Homo sapiens: one gene and its partners. The protein of the gene in region 2 interacts with the protein of the main gene of each other region in a biochemical or structural test. Each region holds a gene or a part of one and is shown on either strand. Other genes may lie near its edges.

Evidence for each region.
Region 1: the proteins of RNF8 (region 2) and UBE2E2 form a complex in vitro, tested with the Homo sapiens proteins (2 studies listed by BioGRID).
Region 3: the proteins of RNF8 (region 2) and KMT5A form a complex in vitro, tested with the Homo sapiens proteins (one study listed by BioGRID).
Region 4: the proteins of RNF8 (region 2) and RXRA form a complex in vitro, tested with the Homo sapiens proteins (one study listed by BioGRID).

The regions. Positions count from the first base shown.
Region 1 is NC_000003.12:23,531,031-23,535,895, reverse strand, and holds part of UBE2E2 (ubiquitin-conjugating enzyme E2 E2), read right to left. Parts: intron 3,343-4,865; coding exon 3,195-3,342; intron 1,744-3,194; coding exon of another isoform or gene 1,682-1,743; exon of another isoform or gene 1-1,681.
Region 2 is NC_000006.12:37,360,483-37,365,347, reverse strand, and holds part of RNF8 (E3 ubiquitin-protein ligase RNF8), read right to left. Parts: coding exon 4,774-4,865; intron 1-4,773. UniProt on the Homo sapiens protein: E3 ubiquitin-protein ligase that plays a key role in DNA damage signaling via 2 distinct roles: by mediating the 'Lys-63'-linked ubiquitination of histones H2A and H2AX and promoting the recruitment of DNA repair proteins at double-strand breaks (DSBs) sites, and by catalyzing 'Lys-48'-linked ubiquitination to remove target proteins from DNA damage sites.
Region 3 is NC_000012.12:123,403,836-123,408,700, reverse strand, and holds part of KMT5A (N-lysine methyltransferase KMT5A), read right to left. Parts: intron 4,063-4,865; exon of another isoform or gene 3,950-4,062; intron 3,818-3,949; coding exon 3,627-3,817; intron 1,209-3,626; coding exon 998-1,208; 3' UTR 1-997. UniProt on the Homo sapiens protein: Protein-lysine N-methyltransferase that monomethylates both histones and non-histone proteins. Specifically monomethylates 'Lys-20' of histone H4 (H4K20me1).
Region 4 is NC_000009.12:134,409,159-134,414,023, forward strand, and holds part of RXRA (retinoic acid receptor RXR-alpha), read left to right. Parts: intron 1-4,865. UniProt on the Homo sapiens protein: Receptor for retinoic acid that acts as a transcription factor.

The DNA of each region.
Region 1 (4,865 bases), on a different chromosome or scaffold from region 2:
TCATCCCAGCACTTTGGGAGGCCGAGGCGGGCGGATCACGAGGTCAGGAGATTGAGACCATCCTGGCTAACACGGTGAAGCCTTGTCTCTACTAAAAATACAAAAAATTAGCCAGGCATGGTGGTGGGGCCTGTAGACCCAGCTACTCGGGAGGCTGAGGCAGGAGAATCGCTTGAACCCGGGAGGAGAGGATGCAGTGAGCTGAGATCGTGCCATTGCAATCCAGCCTGGGCGACAGAGCGAGACTCCATCTCAAAAAAAAAAAAAAAAAAAAAAAGAATGCTCTATCAGGCTCAATAAACACCATCATGAAGTGGTGGCCTAATAAGACCAGCAGTTAGATCTACCTAGACAATTGCATTGAAAACAGAATGATTATTGCTGGTGCACCCATCGACTGGCTGATAACGTTTGGACATCTGCCACCTGAGTGATAATCCTACTAAGTCAAGGTTCAGCTTTTTTCGATTGTAAAATCCAAGTGTCAATGTTGAGGTGACGGCGTTAGATACTATTCGATACTATCTCCCCAGTTAAATTCAACTGAGTAGGTGTTTATCGGTCACCTATTGTGGGCCCATTTGGTGTCCCAAATACTCTGGGTAACAATATCAACAACACATTACCATTTATAAATGGCTTTCACATATACCATCTCATTTTAACCTCAGAGGAATCCAGTGATTTAGGCAGGGCTGGTACTAATCCCAATTTTATATCAAAAACTAAGCCTGTGGAAAGTTAAGTGACCCATCCAATGTGATATGACTAATAAACAATTAAACTGGTTTTCAAATCTACATCTGCTGTCTACAAATATCATGCTGATAAGGATGGGTAGTCATACCCTAAAGAACATCTGTGTTGGAATGGACCAAAAATTCTTTAAAGAGACAAGTGCAAATTACAAAAAGAGTATGAAAAAGATTTAGAAAATAAGTTTATGTATGGATAAGAGTGAGAAAGTATTTTTTAAGTGAGTTAAATTTGTATCATTATACAAGGCCTATTTTTGAGGTGACAGCATTTCCGGGTTAAAATAGCTCTACAGATTCAGTGTAGGAAAATCTTATTTATTCCTATTCTATCAAACTTGTTTTTGTGATAATTTGAAGATAGATTTAAGATAAACTTCAATCTAACCTAATCTTTCCTACCTCTGTAGGTAAAAAAACCTACAGAGATTGAAAGTGTACCAGATAACAGTGTGAAATAAGTCCATTAAGCAAAAGAATGGACATTTGACTACTTTAAAATAAACAACTCTATTTAAGATTCTAGAAGTGTCAACATTCATAAAAACCAATTAGGAAACTTTATTTTTATGTGTTAAAAAGTGTGATAAACTAAATGTTAGCATGTATTTTACAAATTCTCTTCTAGTCTCATATGAGGCAGGCTGTCTTTGGTTTTATGGAACATTATTTTTAGGCTTGTTCTTACTATCAATAGCATTATTTCAAAATCTATTTCTTTTACTTATGTGGTTCTGCTTTAGTTAGGAGTGATTTTTAAGTTTTTGCAGAATGCATTTGTAATTTTCTGAAACGGAGCAAAAAAAAAAAACTAGTTCACTGAACAGAAGTCTTTTTGATTGCTGAGAGAAGGCTTTGGTGGAATGAATCTATTCCTTTAAGCAGGAATATCTGTAGAGAGAACAGGCTGTCATATACAGGCTTATTCAGGGTAACAGATTCCATTTCAGCTGACTTGGAGGCAAAGCAGGCCAGGCTTCGAAATCACCTCAAAAAAAAAAAAAAAAAAAAAGCCTTCTTGCAACATTACCTCCAAATGAGGTTATACAAGGTTATACACAGTCACAGACAAATGGGATTAAAATGGGAACAACAGGACTGAAAGAACAAAATTAACTTTAAATTAGTATAACATTATTGGACTTTACTGTCTGTAGTAAAGTATGAATTAATTCAAAAAATATTTTATAATGATCCTGCACAATTTTATTTTTTGGGCAGGCTGGGTACAGTGGCTCATGCCTGTAATCCCAGCACTTTGGGGGGCCAAAGCGGGCGGATCACAAGGTCAGGAGTTCGAGACCTGGCTGGCCAACACGGTGAAACCCCGTCTCTACTAAAAGTACAAAAATAAGCTGGGCTTGGCGGCACACGGCTGTAATCCCAGCTACTTGGGGGGCTAAGATAGGAGAATCGCTTGAATCCAGGAGGCGGAGGTTGCGGGAGCCAAGATCGTGCCACTGCACTCCAGCCTGGGTGACACAGTGAGACTCAGTTTCAAAAAAAAAAAAAAAAAAAAAATACTAATTTGCTACTTTAAAAAAGATTTTACTGCTGAAAAATAAAGAAATATAAAAGTAGAAAGACTGTTATTTCTTGATGTTTTATAAAACAGCCAGGATCCTAAGCAACCCCACTGATACTCGTCATTTCCATTTGTGTAAAATTTCATGTATCCAGTGAACAGAGTTTACTCATGATTGTAGAAGAGGGAATCTCATGCAATATTTAAGCTATTAATTACTCATAAAATAATTCTCCCACTGAGAACATCAATGAAAACCCTATAGCTATCTTTGGATTTTTGTATTTTCTAAAATAAACCCAATTTGTAAAGACATGGCCCAGGAATTAAGAATTTTCAGTGGTAAGCACACCAGCAAGCCATAAAGGCCTGGCTATAGACTTTTTCGTTTTCTTGGGAGGTGTATTTCCTTGTTTACTTTTGGGGTATTTCCTAGAACAGACCATTCAGGACCGTTATAATAGCTTGTCAGGATGCACAGTTACTAGGATGCCAAAAAGGTCACGTCTGCATGGTGCTGCCTGGTTGTTATCAGATTTTAATAGCCCACATTCCTCAAATTAACATCTTCTAGTAGGCATCTAATTAAAGATTAAGCTATTCAACTTGAATTTTTATTATTATTTGGCAGGATAACTTAATTCATTCTTTAAACGTACTTTCCCATCTAAAATGATTTTTCATTATTTTTTTTACCACACTATACTTTTTCCTTTTTGGCAAATGATAGGTCTTAAAAACACTAATGAGAAGACCCAATTTAAAAAGAAAATAGTTACATACTATGAAAATTTAACAATAATAGTAGTAGAAGCAGTGGTGGTAGTGGTAGTAGCAGTAGTAAACAAGTTACTAAGGGTCTGACATTTAAATCTTGACAAGCTCCAATTCATACTAGATTTAAAGTCTCTTACCAGGGTTGCAATCTGTAAGAAGTGAGCAGATGGAGAGGAGAACTTTAGAAATAGTTAAAGCCGGACTCCAGTTGTCCTTTAAGATGTCCAGACAGATCACACCTTGGCTGTTAATATTACAGTGATAGATTCTTGTTCGGAAGGTAACCTACAAGAAAATGTAAAGTTATATTTTGTTAGACAAAGTGTTTATTAACAGTATCTATAGACAATTTTTGTCTAATAAAATTGCCTATTTTATCAGACAAAATAGCCCAGGCTATTGGTTAACATACACTTGATTTTTTTCTTGGGCACATGAGATTAATCAACAGAGATCATCATTTTAGAATTTGTCATTTTGGGCACAGAGAAATAAACATCAACAGCAAAACCATGACATTCTGCTTCTTATAAAGAGTCCTGTTATTTAACAAATGTTTTAGGGACTGAATTTACTTTTGATACAACTACAGGAATGTTCATGGGGAGAAACTGACTCTGACTTCTAAAAAATTTCAAAGAAAACTTTTGTTAGATTCCAGTTATTTTAAGGATTTTGTACATTTATAATATTCAAACACCAAAAAGCATGAGAGTACTAATACAAAGAAAATAAATATTATTCTATAACAGTTTTTTTTTCTTTTTTTTTTTTTTTGAGATAGAGTTTCGCTCTGTTGCCCAGGCTGGAGTGCAGTGGCGTGATCTTTGCTCACTGCAACCTCCACCTCCCGGGTTCAAGCGATTGTCCTGCCTCAGCCTCCCAAGTAGCTGGGATTAGAGGTGCCCGCCACCACACCCAGCTAATTTTTGTATTTTTAGTAGAGACAGGGTTTTGCCATGTTGGCCAGGCTGGTCTTGAACTCCTGACCTCAAGTCATCCGCCTGCCTTGGCCTCCCAAAGTGCTAGGATTACAGGTGTAAGCCAACATACCCGGCCTATAACACAGTTTTAAAACATAAACTAAGGCATTTATATAAATAACATGCCCAGTTCATAGAACTATATTAGTATAATTATAGTAGTTACAATTTACTATTTTAGTTATATTACTAGTTACAATTAGCTGTAATTTAGAAACCTTTTCCTTCTTAAATTTTATTTTTAAAACGTAATATTAGTGCATCCTACCTTTGCCCTGTGATAGCTAGATCACCACTGTATGCTGCTTACATGTAATTGTGAAACATGACCATATCATTTGTAAAACACTTCAACTGAAAATAATTAAGTGCAAATCAGTTTTATAACTACGAAAATAATTAAGTGCAAATCAGTTTTATAACTACTAAAACTGTTTAATAAAAGTGTTATGTAAACGGCAATAAGATGTGAATATTATTGATTAATATTATGTTCATAAATGTTCTTAAATTTTAAGTTGAAATATACAAAAATCTCAGGGTTCTAAAGACAGTCTTTTGGTACCCTATGTTCAAAATAGCTCTGAACCAAGAAAAACACACATGCAGATCTCTGCAGGTGCTGCCACTCCACCAGGGCATCCAGCATCCAGTCAAACACCAGATTTATGTAATTTACATGATGCGAAGTCTCAGAAAGGGCAAATCTAGAGACTTATGTGGTTGTCGAACAAGAGACATCATTCTCAGGTTAAATTAGTACTTCTAATGAGAACTGCCCTTCTAGCATCATGCCAGACCAGATAATCCATGACACCTACATAC
Region 2 (4,865 bases):
TGGTAGTCAACCTTTCCCGCATTCCCAGGCAACTACTTATCTGTTCTCTTCTCTTTCCCAGAATGTAATACAAATGGAATCTTATTATCTACACTTTTGAGTCTTGCTTCTTTCACTTAGTGTAACGCCTCTGAGATTCGTCCACACTGTTGCATTATCGGCAGTTTGTTATATTTTATTGCTGAGTAATATTGAAGGTAGTAGGGGTGGAGCACAGTTTATCCATTCCCTAGTTGTTTTTTTTCCCAGTTTTTGGTGAATATTAATAAAGCCACTACAGGCCAGGTGTGGTGGCTCACGCCTGTAATCCTAACACTTTGGGAAGCCGAGGCAGGTGGATCAGCTGAGGTTAGGAGTTCAAGACCAGCCTGGCCAACATGGTGAAACCCACCTCTACTAAAAAGACAAAAATTAGCCAGGCGTGGTGCCGCATGCCTGTAATCCCAGCTACTCGGGAGGCTGAGGCAGGAAAATCACTTGAACCCGGGAGGCAGAGGTTTGGGGAGCCGGGTTCACGCCATTGCACTCCAGCCTGGGCAAAAAGAGCGAAACTCCATCTCAAAATATAAAAACAAAAAAAATAAAGCCACTAGAAACATTCACATACAAGTTTCTGCGAGAACATAAGCTTTCATTAATCTTGGGTAAATACCTAGAAATAGGATCACTGGACAAGTATATATTTGACTCTTAGAAACCACCAGTTTTTCAAAGTGGAGGTACCATTTTATATTCACACTTGAATGTTGAGGAGTTCCAGTTATTCTGCATGCTTGCCAGCACTTGGTATCATCAAGTCTTATTTCAGCAATTGTATTAAGTATGTATCCGTCAATATATTTTTTAAAGTCTTTACTAAAGCGGAACATGCAAACATAAACGTGCACAAATCATAAATGTACCAACTCGATGAACAGTCACAAAATGAACATCTTAGTGTAACTACCATAAGGTCAAAAACAAAACAAACCCCACATTATCAGCATCCCAGAAACCCCTGTGTGTCTCCTTCTAGTCAGTAGCCACCTTGGCAATAAAGTGACTACTATCCAGATTTAACAGCACATGTAAATTTTGCCTGGTTTTAAACATTGTATAAATGGCATCATATAATATGTATTCTTTTGTGTCTGTCTTCTTTCACTCAATTTTTTTTTTTTTTTTTTTTTGAGACAGAGTCTCGCTCTGTCCCCCAGGCTGGAGTGCAATGGCCTGATCTCGGCTCACTGCAAGCTCCGCCTCCCAGGTTCATGCCATTCTCCTGCCTCAGCTTCCAGAGCAGCTGGGACCACAGGCACCCGCCACCACGCCTGGCTAATTTTTTATATTTTTAGTAGAGACGGGGTTTCACCATGTTAGCCAGGATGGTCTCGATCTCCTGACCTCGTGATCCGCCCGCCTCGGCCTCCCAAAGTGCTGGGATTACAGGCGTGAGCCACAGCGCCCAGCCTTCTTTCACTCAATATTATGTGAGGTTTATCCATGTTATTAGATATAGTAGTTCATTCATATTCACTATAGTATAGTGTTTCAATATAAGATTATTCCACAATTTATCCATTCTACTGTTGATGGACATTTGGGCTGTTTCCCGGGGAGTGAAAATACTGTGTCAAGAGCTATATGTATGTTCAACTTTAATGAATAATGCCAAATAATTTCCCAAATTGTACCAATTTACACTCCCAACAGAAGGGTAAGAACATTCTATCACTCCATATCCTTACCAATACCTGGCATCACTAGTCTTCAATTTTAGCCACTCTGGTGAATGTGTAGAGGTATTCCATTATGGTTTTAATTTAAATTCCCCAGATTATTAATGAGGTTGAACAACTTTTCATTGGATAGAACCTTTTGTGAAGTGCTTGTCTCTTGCTCATTTTTAAATAGGGCATATCTGTCTTTTTCTTATTGGAGTTCTGCAGATACCTCAGTATAAACCCTTCATTGACTATAATGTGTAGCAAACATCTTCCTCTGAGTTTGCCTTTTACTCTCTTAATGGTGTTTTTTGACGAATGAACGCTTTTATTGTACTACCATCAGTATTTTTAAAAAGTGCCCCAGGTGAGAGTAAAAACTGGAAACAGGGTTGATAACCACTGCTCTAGTTGCTGGAGGACCAGAAGCTGAACTGTCCCAAACAGCAAACTTTGTTCACGTAAGAGTACACTCAACAGGGACTTCAAATGCCAGAGTCTGCAGAAGAACAAAGGTAGGAATCACCAGGCAGCAGGTGAAAAGCAACAGGAGAGGAGGGTAAGAATGGGAAAGGCTCAAGTAAGACGTGACTGAACCTCTAAGGCATTTCATACTGTGACTTTAAAACAACCAATTTTCTGAAAGAGCTGGATACCAATACAAAGGACGGGCCATCTGAAAAGCTTATGAATTGACCAAAACCTACACAACTAGAACCATCCTCATACTGTGTGCAGACTTAGCTGTCCTCCAAGGTTTTTTTCTATATTTTAAGCCAATTTTAAACCAAAATAACATTTCTTGCAATTTTTGTATCTATACTTAAGCTCTCACTTTCTGGCCATTCCAGCAGATAAGAGAATGCAGCTCTGAGTTTTTAACTTGTTAGAAACACCTATCTCTTGAAAAAGATTTGGCAAATGACTTCAAACACAACCACAGCAATAATACCCTACAGCTGAAATTCAGGTCTCTTATCAGCAGAAGAGGGCTGCCATGGCATCATGCCAGGAGGAAGCCAGAAAGGGGGCATCTGTAGTCAAAAGAAAAGTGCAGGGGGCAGGGGGGATTTACTTGTAAGAATTGTTCCATCAAAACACCCCAGTCCTAGCTTCTCTTAAAATTAAATCAGTTATCTCACAAACAATCACAGCTAAAAAGTTTAAACAGGTTGTTAAGAAACCTATCTTTCCTCTCTATTGCCTGACTGAGACCTGAGAAGAATCATATGATAACAGCAACCCTAGAAGGAAGGGTACAAAGCAAACACTGGAGAGTGAGCCCGGAGCACAGTCATGATCTGATCTTGCACAGGCTGCCTCTGTATCCCTGTGGTTGAAATTCAAATAACACTGAAGTTGATCAGCTGTTGGCTTCCCAACCTATGAAAATCTGCTAATCCCATAAGTGGATCACATCTACACTGCACATAATTAAGAAAAGCAGCAGCAGAGAACTCACCTCTATAATATTGTAATCCTAACTCTCATACAGCCTACTCTGATGAGGAAAACATCTTTTCCTAAGCTGTTTTGATATACGCTATTACAGAGGCTTTAAAACCTTGCAGCTATATTTTAAATATGCATAATTAATTGTTTGACGTCATAAAGCCAGTATAGCAAATTGCTTACATACTTTACTGATACTTGACACAGGGCATAGCAGAGAAACTTAAGTCCTGGCTCATTATAGAGAAGGCTTTGGGCAAGACAGTTTATCTCTCTGGGCCTCAGATTCATCTGTCTACATAAGGGGTTAAAGTAGATAATCTCAGTGCCAATTTTTATCCTGCTCATGGTGCCTTGCTAAAAGTGCTGAACTGATTTACTTAGCATTTATGTACTGTCTCCTTCAATACAGTGCCAACTCAACTTAATTCTAGAGCAGGAAGATACTTTCCAACAGCTTAAATCTAGCAGTTTTATGCACGCAATATGAGGATGGCAGGCAGACCTGTGGGATACCCTCCCTTCTAATGGTACCTTTAAAATCCTAACTGGGGCAGTGAAGCAATATGAAATGGCACTTAAAGACATGTTATACTTCCTAAACATTAACTGTTTATGTTAGAATTTCTCTCACCTCATAGTCTGTATTTTCATCACATTCCTCGGTGCTTGTATATCTGCACTTTAGGTATCTTCTTTTCTTTTTGATAGCGACAGGGCTTCACTATGTCAGCCACACTGGAGTGCAGTGGCTATTCACAGGTGCAATCCCTTTGTTGATGAGCACAGCAGTTTTGACCTGCCCTCCTTCCAACCTGGGTCAGTTCACCTCTCCTTAGACAAACTGGTGGTCCCCTGCTCCCAGGAGGACACCATATTGATGCCGAACTTAAGGCAGACACCAGAATGGCATAGCACACTATAACCCAGAATTCATGGGCTCAAACAATCCTCTGGCCTCAGCTTCTCCAGTAGTTGGGACTACAGGCATGTGCCACCACACCCAGCACATTAGGTACTTTCTAATTGCTGGGCTTCATATACTATTGCACCTCCCTCAATATATTTACCACTAAACTAGTGGTTTTCAAATTTGTTTAAAGGAGAAAAACCCATTATTCAAAGGAAATCTTCGGAACACCAATATTTAAAACATGTTTTAAAGGCCAGGGGAGGTTGCTCAGATTGAAAGGAGTGAGGAAGGAAAGGAGCTAAGCGCAATCAGATCAGTTTCTCCCTCCTCCCCTTGTCCACTGAGCCATAAGTGTACTCCAGAAGCGTCAGCAGATTCTGCAGATTCCCAGGGTCTCTGGGAGCTTCACCTCAAACAGGCTTATTTGCCCAGTAACTTAGTCTAGTTTCTGGAATAGGACCTACTACCCCAATTCAGGTATTCTCTTCAAGTTAACAAACTTTAACCCAAATCAAGAGAAATTATTTTAGCATAATCGAATCTCTGGCAGCATATGGAAGTGGCTGCCTCTGGAAAAGGGAACTGGATGGCTAGGAAAGAAGAAGTTATACTTTTGAATTTTATACCATGAATTACCTATGCAAAAAAAAAAAAAAGTAATTTAAAAACAAATAAAAGTCATTAGGCTTCTGTGAATTCCTGTACCTTGTTGTCCATAATTGTCCATTGGCCCTCAGGATTCTGCTTCAAAACACAGTGGTTTCGAGAAATCATCAGGGGGCAGATTTTTGATACCA
Region 3 (4,865 bases), on a different chromosome or scaffold from region 2:
GGATGAGGGGGAATGGGGGTGGATGTCAGGTAAGTAATTTCTGGTCCCACTACAAAACTTTATTTTTGATTAGAGTACCATTCTCAATCTCTTCTACAAAAAGCAAAAAAAAGCAAAAAAAAAAAAAAAAAAAAGCAGCCACTTCACTCACTTCAAGACCTATATACATGTAAAGTTGTTTTCTGTGGTTTTTTTTATTTTTAATTTTTTTAAATTTTTATTATTATTTTTTAAAATAAATTCAGTGTTCACATTTCTATAAAGAATTAACCCAGTTTCAGGAAACCCTGCCCCAGCAGGGCAGGTAAGCAACCCTCTCCCTGCCCACATCTAGTTTGATTTCACGCCCTGATGCTTCAAGGTGCCCAGAAAAGCGGCAGCTTGTGGAAGAGGAAATCTATGCCCGGCCCGTGCTTGGGGCCCGGGGCTCAGTAAGCTTTCGAGAAAGCAGAGGGGAAGACTAGCTTACTGCAAAAACCTTTTTAAAAAATATTCATACACTTCAGTGAGCGCCTGTTGAGACGTTAGGGGAACAAGAGCTTGGAAACATCCCGTCCAGGCCATTGGGAGGCAGCGTCTTCCTCACACCCCGTCCCTGGATGTCGGGGGTGCAGGGGGAAGGTCCCGGCTCTTCCACTGGAGAAAGGAGACTCACCTGGCTTCCTAGTTCATGTTTGACTATTTCCTCTAAAACCTGTGCTGAGTCTTTGACTGCATGCACGGGAAGCACAAACGTTCGGCTTGTATGCAAAAAAAGTACAAAAACAACTAGAATATAAAAGTTTTGGTAATATAAGGCCATCTGTTCAAGTCCACCTTGGAAACCTGTAACAGATATTTAAATACTACAGTGAAAAGGCATCTTAATATACTTTTTAAAAACATCTGAAGTAATCCGCTAAGATTAAGTGTGTAAAAAAAAAATTCAATTCCCTTTGAGGGCACTTTGTCCTTTGAAGAAGGGAAAGTGGGGCGGGGAGGGCACGGGGCCCACCGGTTAATGCTTCAGCCACGGGTGGGCTTCAATGGAAGCCTTGCTGCGGTCCCCATAGTCATACAGGAGCTCCTCCCCAGCCGCGATGTCTCGGGAGGCGATGAGGATGAGGTGAGGTACGCCGTCGATGTCGTGCAGTTTGGTTTGGCAGTTCCCACATTTGCTGTGATTGATCAGTCTTCCTAGGCGATTTGTCTCTCTAGTTGCATCCACGCTGGAGGGGAAGGAGGGCCAGAGAGGATTAAATGGATAAAGAGGCTTTTCAACCTGAAGAGAGTCACACTTGTGCTCAGCTCTGGTGGGATGCTGATTTAAAGCCATGTGTTTTGAAAAGATTCAATTCATAAAGCTATTTTCTTTTTCCTTTTTAGAGGGGGTCTCGCTCCGTAACCCAGGCTGGAGTGCAGTGGCACGATCACGGCTCACTGCAGCCTCCACCTCCCGGGCTCAAGTCATCCTCCTACCTCAGCCTCCCGAGTAGCTTTGACCACAGGTACATGCCACCACATCAGGCTAATTTTTAATTGTTTCTGTAGAGACAAGATCTCCCTATATTGCTCAGGCTGGTCTCCAACCCCTGGGCTCAAGTGATCCTCTGGCCTTGGCCTCCTGAGTTTTTGAGATTACAAGCACGAGCCACCAGGTCTGGCTCAATTTGCAAAGCTTTTTTTTTTTTTTTTTTTTTTTTGAGAGGGAGTCTCGTCGCTCTGTCGCCCAGGCTGGAGTGCAGTGGCACGATCTCAGCTCACTGCAACCTCTGCCTCCCGGGGTAAGGCAATTCTGCCTCAGCCTCCTGAGTCACTGGGATTAGAAGCGTGTGCCACCATGCCAGGCTAATTTTTTTGTATTTTTAGTAGAGATGGGGTTTTGCCATGTTGGTCTGGAGCTCCTGACCTTCATGATCCATCCACCTCGGCCACCCAAAGTGCTGGGATCACAGGCATGAGCTACCACGCCTGGCCCACAAAGCTATTTTTGAGAGCCTGCACAGGCCCTGGGTGGGGGGATGGGGTAGGACCCAAAGGGCTCTTTATGGAGGCACAGGAGGAAATGGTAGAGTTTCACAAAATAAATGGATTAAAAAAATCAACCCCGCCAGGCGCGGTGGCTCACGCCTGTAATCCCAGCACTTTCGGAGGCTGAGGCGGGTGGATTACCTGAGGTCAGGATTTCAAAACCAGCCTGGCCACCATGGTGAAACGCTGTCTGTGCTAAAAATACAAAATTAGCTGGGCGTGGTGGCGCATGCCTGTAATCCCAGTTACTTGGGAGGCTGAGGCAGGAGAATTGCTTAAACTTCGGAAGTGGAAGTTGCAGTGAGCCAAGATCGTGCCACTGCACTCCTGCCTGGACAACAAGAGTGAAACTCCATCTCAAAAAAATAAAATAAAATAAAAAATAAAAAATTCAACTCCACTGGTCCTAGCCAGGCAAGATCAATTAGTGATTTCCAGAGCTGCTCTGGCCAAATGCCCTGAAGGAGAGCCAGGTGAGCTGCTTAACAGGTTTTCATGTGACTAGCCCACTTCTCCCCTTGGATGAGATAACATCCAGGACAGCTCCAATTCCAAAGATTAAAAATGGGAAGCTGGGGCCACAGTGGCTCATGCCTGTAATCCCAGCACTTTGGGAGGCCAAGGTGGGCAGGTCACAAGGTTAGGAGATTGAGACCATCCTGGCTAACACAGTGAAACTCCATCTCTACTAAAAATACAAAAAATTAGCCAGGCATGGTGGCATGTGTGTGTAGTCCCAGCTACTCAGGAGGCTGAGGCAGGAGAATCGCTTGAACCTGGGAGGTGGAGGTTGCAGTAAGCCAAGATTGCACCACTGCACTCCAGCCTGGGTGACAGAACGAGACTCCGTCTCAAAAGAAAAAAAAAAAGGGAAGCTGGGGCCAGGCGCAGTGGCTCACATCTGTAATCCCAGAACTTTGGGAGGCTAAGGCAGGCAGACCATATGAGGTCAGACCAGCCTGGCCAACATAATGAAACCCTGTCTCTACTAAAAAAATATATAAGAATTAGCTGGGCGTGGTGACGCACACCTGTAATCCCAGTTACGTGGGAGGCTGAGACAGAATACCTTGAACCCGGGAGGTGGAGGTTGCAGTGAGCCAAGATTGTGCCACTGCACTCCAGCTTGGGCGACAGATCGAGATTCAAAAAAAAAAAAAAAAAAAAAAAAAAGGAAGCAGGCGATAATTGCATCACAGCTTTGAAAAAAGGCAACAACAGCCCGAGCGCAGTGGCTCACACCTGTAATCCTAGCACTTTGGAAGGCCAAGGCGGGTGGATCGTCTGAGGTCAGGAGTTCAAGACCAGCTTGGCCAATGTGGCAAAACTCCACCTCTACTAAAAATACAGAAAAAAAAAATTAGCTGGGCTACTCTGGAGGCTGAGGGAGGAGAATTCTTTGAGCCTGAGAGGAGGTTGCAATGAGCCGAGATCACACCACTGCACTCCAGCCTGGGCAACAGAGCAAGACTCCATCTCAAAAAATAAAAAAAAAAAAGTCAACAACAACAAAACCAAAAGACTGGCCACCAAACAGAATCAGGAGTTCCTGGCCCTTTGGCCTCTCCTCACTGCCCAGAGGACAGAAAAGCCACTCTAAGCAACAGTGGACTCACCAGTAGGTTTTGCTCAGATACTGAAAATAGTACATGTAGCAGCCCGTGGAAGGGTCCTGTGCGTACAGAGCCTCCCGTTTCTTGGCGTCGGTGATCTCGATGAGGTCCCCGTGGTATTCCACCACAAAGTCACCCCGGGAGAACTGCTTGGTGGCAATCACACCCCTGCCTTTGCCATCGATGAGGTCAATCTGTCAGGTGATAAGAGAGGGTGTTGGTTCATAATAGCAATGGATGCCACTGTGCACAGCAGGTCTCCGGGGAGCTGGGGCTTACCCCAGTCTTTAACAGCTGTACTGAGCCATGTCATAAAATTCACTCACTTTACATGTACAGGCTGATGGGTTTTATGAAGTGTATACAGCTGTGCAACCGTCACTACAGGCCAGCTCTAGAACGTTCCCTCACTCCACAAACGTGGTTCCTTGGTGCTCATCTGCAAAGCAGTTACATCAGAGCTCGTGAGAGATCTGCTAGGTGGAGACTGCCCCATTTTGTAGATGAGGAAACTGAGGCTTAAAGAGGCACAACCACGTGTCTGAGGCCACACAGCTAGACAGTGACACAGCTCAAATCCACACACCTGGTTTCTCTGTCTAGGGGCTATGCGCTATGCCTTCCTAGGCAAACAGCAGGCCCAGTGTTCTGGGTCTCTACCTCATTCCACGATTTCTCTCCTGTGTCTCCTCACTCTATTCTACATGGAGTTGAATGGGGTTGCTGGAGGGGCCCAGGACTTAAGCCGGAATCCCCCTAGGTGGTGGGTGGAAGTGGAAGCTTTCTGAACCCGGAGCCCTAGTCTAGGCCCATCTGAACCCCACTGTAGAGAGTACTTCTCCTCTCGCCCAAACTGAGTGTGGTTGAAATACAGTAAGAGAAAAGCACATTTCTTGGGCATTGTCATTATCTAGGAAAACAGTTTAAAAATGTATTAGTTTCTCCTTTTAAAAGTTTCCCTGGGCATCAGCTACATATTGTATAATCCGATTTATATGAAGTGCCCAGAAGAGCAACTCCACTGAGACAGAAAGCAGCTGAGTGGCTGCCAGGGGCTGGGCAGGGGAGAGGTGGGGATGGTGGGCAGTGGTAAGTAATGGGTAAGGGTTTCCATTTGGGAGGATGAAAAAATTCTGAAATTAGACAGGGATAATGGTTGCATTGCATTGTGAATGTACAAAAAGCCACTGAATTGTTTAACCACAATTTCTAAGAAAAGCTTCCCCTGGATAACATTTATAT
Region 4 (4,865 bases), on a different chromosome or scaffold from region 2:
GACAAACAGTGGGGCCCGGGCTTGTGCGTGGACACCCGAGATGGACAACAGGGAGTGAGTGGCCTGGACAGAAGCATGGCAAGGCCAAGGCAGGAGTGGGGGCGGGGCCCAGCGCGTGGGCACACGTGCGGCCCAGAGCGTGGGCACACATGGGTCCTGGGCGGCATGTTCTGGCTGGCGTTGGCTGTCCGGTGAGGGGATGGTCAAGGAGACCCTCAGGTGGCACTGCTTAGGTTGGAGAGGTGGAGCGGGGGCATCTTCTGAGCTGTTGGATGCCAGGGGTGGTCCCGGGCCAGCTTCCTCCCGAGGCCAACTCTGTGGCACCCCGCAGGGCCGCCGGATGGCCCCCAGGCTCTTGGAGCAGTTCCTCCTTTCCTTTTGTTTTTGTGCTCGTCTTATTAACAAATCTGTGTCGGGGCGGTTTGCAGGGAAGTCCCTCCCCCGATGTCACCAAAATTGTCAAGTCATCCAGCCAGACCTGGGTCGGAGTCCCGGGCCCCACAGGCACTGTGACTTCCCAGTCCTGGCTGGCTGTAGTCCTCAGTTTCCCCATCTGTCACATCCCCTTTCCCTCTCAGGTTTGGCGATTCCTGGCCTCTTAGTGGGTCCCTGGGTCATGGTTTGCACACACGTTTGGGGGTGTGCCTCAGTTCCTCCCATCGGGTCCCGTGCCCTGGGCCTTGTGGAGGTGGGAGGTGCTGTCTGGGGTGAAGATCTGTTGGTCTGTCCCTGTCCCCCCGCTCTGCAGGACACCCTTCCTCTGTCCTCTGCTGTGCTGCTCCTGAGGCCCAACACCTGTGTGGCTGGTGTGTCTTACTTCCTCCCCGCCAGCCCCTGGTGGGGTCCCCAAACAGGACCCACACCACTGTCTCACCGTCAGGGATGTCCTGAGTGGCCACCTTGGTGCTGCAGTTTCATTTCATCATCTCTCTTGTGTATGTCTTCTCAGCCTTAACGGTCCTGTTGAGAAATCAGAGCCTCTGCCAGGCGCCGTGCTCCTGGAGGGTGTCCTCCTTGGGCTGCGAGGCTGAGTGTGGTGTATGGGCTGGTGTGAGGTCCTTGTGCCTGCATAGCAGAGCTGCCTTCCAGAGCTGGTGTGGCCATGCCCAGTGCTGCCAGTCAGGCCTTTCTGATGGGGATTCGTGTTTCATGGAGTGCTGACGTTTGCTCAGGCCCACCCTGTGCTGTGCAGGTTGGGAAACCGAGGGCAGACGGTTCAAGCCTTGCGCAGGGTCACATGCTGGGCCCTGGCCCCCATCCAGACCTTGTTGCTTTCACCAGAGGGCAGAGGAGCATGTGCCCAGCCTGGAGAGGTGTGTGCCCAGCCTGGAGAGGTGTGTACCCAGCCTGGAGAGGTGTGGACCCAGTCTGGTTCTTCCGGGTGCCTGGTGTGGGCAGGGAGGCTTGCTGTGGTGGCAGGTGCAGCCTTGTCCCTGGAAGATGGAAACTGGGACAGGGGCAGGCATAGTAGGCAGTGGCCGGGGCCCCTGTGCCCAGGCGTGGAGACTGGCCTGTTCTGGGGTGGAGGCCCGAGGCGTGGCTGGAGCTGGGGGGGGAAGGCCTCGTGTGCAGCCTTAGCCTGGCAGTCTCTGTGAGGATGCCACAGCACAGAGAGCTTGGTTTAGCCGAGACCACTCTCAGATCCTGGGGGCTTCAGGGAGACCCCTGCGAGCTTGGGGGCAGATGAGAGCGCTGTGCATGGCTGATGCCTGGCCTGGGCCTGCAGCAGTAAGCTCGCTGTCCTTTGAAAGTGATCATCAGATAACCAGGGGGGGCCCAGGGGGCAGCCAGTGCAGGCTTAGGGGAAGCTCAGGCACTGTGGGAGCCCAGAGGAGGCACCTGACCCTGCCTCGGGCACCCGGTGAGACGCAGGCAGGCAGGAGGGCTGTTGACGCCTGAGGAATGAAAAGGTGTCGGCACCACAGGCCTGGCTGCAGGGAGCAGTGTCCGTGAAGTCTGAGGCTGTCATCACACCTGGCCCTCGGAAGTCGGTGATGGCCTTTCTGAGCCCCGTCCCGGACCCTCCAGGCTGCACTGACTCCTTCCTAAGGCCCTGCAGCCCAGTCATCCATGTGCCTGGGATCATCAGACTCCAGCTGCCTGGGCCCCCCAAAGCCTGGGGACGACACCCCATCCCATCCCAGTGGAACCGTGCAGTGTTGGGGCTGGGGGGACCTGGAATCACCTGGTCAGACCGCTCCCCTGGTGCCCATCGGTGACTGGGTCCTGTTAGGAGCAGCTCATGTGGGGGACCACCCTGGACACCCCCTTCCTGATCCCCACACATGGTCTCACTCGCCCCATACCTGTGAGACAGAGAAATGGGGTATAGAGAGGTGAGCCGTGGGGAGGTCTAAGGGCCAGCACCAGGCGTGGCCCCCATTTCTTGCCGGTCCTTCCTGCTTCCAGTCCTTCCTCTTGGCAGCGCATAAGCCCTGGAGACCAGACTTAGGGCCGTGAGAGAAACTGCTGCTGCTGTCAAGGGACCTCCTCCCCTTTGCCTCCAGCAGGATTCTGAGGCGTGAACTTGCAGTCAGAATGCTGCCGAGCGCTCTCGCCCCAAACACAGCTGCAGAACTCAGCCTCGGTGTGGAGGGCACCTCTGCGTGGGCGGTGAGGAGGCAGTGAGGCCCCCGTGCCAAACGTGCCCTGCTGCCAGTGCCTCTCCTTGTGCACAGGGGGAGTCTCTTGCCTCCCCCAGCCTGGCTGTGTGGGCTGCACAGCCAGGCCTGTGGAGCTCCTTACTCTTGGGCAGTAACGGGGCCCCTGGTGCAGCCCAGGCACTCGCCCTGCAGGGACCCCACGTGGAAACGGTGGCTGGGAGGGCTTGGCAGGCACCCTCCTCCCCGGCCTGCGTCTGGGTGCTGGGCAAGACCCCTTGGCTCCAGATGGGTCCTGAAGTGCAGAGCACTCCCCTCTCTCCTCTTGGGCAAACCACTGCAAGGCAGGCTCCCCGACAGCGGAGGGCAGGGCTGTTGGCTGCATGGGTGAGGCATTGCAGCAGCCCTGGAGAAAGCTATGGGGCCAAGTTGGCCAACACTAGGTGCCTGTGGCCCAGAGCATGCAGGATGGGAGCTGTCGGCTCTGGGGACTGAGCCCTCCTAAGTGTCAGGCCCCCTGGTGGGCAGCTCCGCCCACTGGCCTTGGTGTCAAGTGGTCCCTCGGCCCGGTTTGTGATCAGACCCCTAGAAACAGGCTGGAGCTGAGGCGTCGCATCCCAGTGCAGTGCTGCGAGGGAGTCGCCTGGGGTTGGTCCCAGGGCTGGCTGAAGGCAGGATGGCCCAGGTGCCCCCATGCGGTGACTCTGCCCCCGGCAAAGGCCCACTCTGGCTCTGGGGCAGATGGGTTCCCACCCCTATGCGGTAGGATACCACAGGCTGATAGCATCTCAGGTTGGGCAATGGGGCCTGCACGCGCAGGCAGCCACCAGGAGGGACTCGTTCCGCAGCATTCCCGGGACCAGGGGTGGGCAGAGGTGGGGGGACGTGCAGTGGTGGGTGTTGGCCCTCTGCCAAGCTGAGCCTGGGCCTGTTTGCTGAAGCCGGGGAGGGGGCAGGGGTTGGGGGTCCCGCAGGGACACGTGCTCTGATGGGGAAGACAGGCCTCACCCTTGGGGGTTCCCAGTCCGATGGAAAAGACCTAGCTTCCACCCAGGGTCGTCGGGGGAGACATTGGTCTAGAGGGGGCAGTGGCTGTCCCCCATTCTGCTTCCTCCTCCTCCCTCAGGAAGGCTGCTTCCCATTTCCTTCCTGCCTGCCTTTGCTTCCTGTGCCCACCCTCCAGCTCTGAAGGACTGGGTGTGGAAACAGCAGGGTCTGGCGTGTGTGCACCTATGTGTGCACGTGTGTGCATGTGCGTGCACTGCAGGGATGTGGCTGACCCACAGGTCTCTGCTGTGGGAAGGGAGCCCCGGCTGGGCTCGAGTGTGGCCCTCTTGCCTTCTGGCCTGTGAACTGGGCAAGTGACCTTGCCTCGCCCAGTCCTCAGGTTCCTCATCTGTGATGGGCTGGGGGCATCAGGAAGACCCCTGCGAGCTTGGGGGTGGATGAGAGTGCTGTGCGTGGCTGGTGGTGGGGTTGGAGAGCAGTGGTCACGTGTGGGTGTGGGTGTGGTATGTCTGTGTGGTGTATGGGTGTGCGTGTGGTGTGTGTGTGATATGTCTGTGGTGTGGTATGTGTGGTGTGGTATGTCTCTGTGTGTCTGTGTGTGTATGTCTGCATGGTTTGTGTGCACGTGTGTGTGCATGGTTCTCGTGTTCTGATGCCTTGCTCTAGGTTGAAGCCCTGGAGGGAAGGTAAGTCACTCCCTTTAGAGACTCTAGCTTGCTGTGTGGCCTCTGGCGCTGCTCTCTGGGTCTCTGTCTCCCCACCCTTAAGAGGAGGCCAGAATGGTTTGGTGGAGTTCGGTCCTGCCTGTCTTGGGCCCAGCCCTGGGCTGCACAAGGGACGGAGGAAGGACTCAGCCATTGCCACTACCCAAGCCAGAGGAGCCAGTGGGCCTGGGGATGCCCCTCGGCTCCGACATGCCTGCCTCGGAGCTGTCTGCCCTTCCCCAGACCCCCTCCCTCCTGCTTGACCCTGAGGGGCTGTGGCAGGTCGGAGATGTCCTTTGCTTCTGAGGGGCTGCTGCACCCTGAGTCCTAGGCCAGCTTGTCTCTGGGGGCCTGGGACCCCAGTGATGCTGGGGAGGGTCCGCCTGGGCAGGAGTCTCAGGTCTTCCTGGGAGGACTGGGCTGCGGTGTGTGAGTCTCCTCTGCCTCTGAGCAGCCTCCCCCGTGCCTCCACTCTGCCTCCTCCAGCCGCCACGCTCTGGTCTGGAGGGTAAAGAGGCTCTGTGTTTACAGACACCTCCCGCCCGGCCTCCGG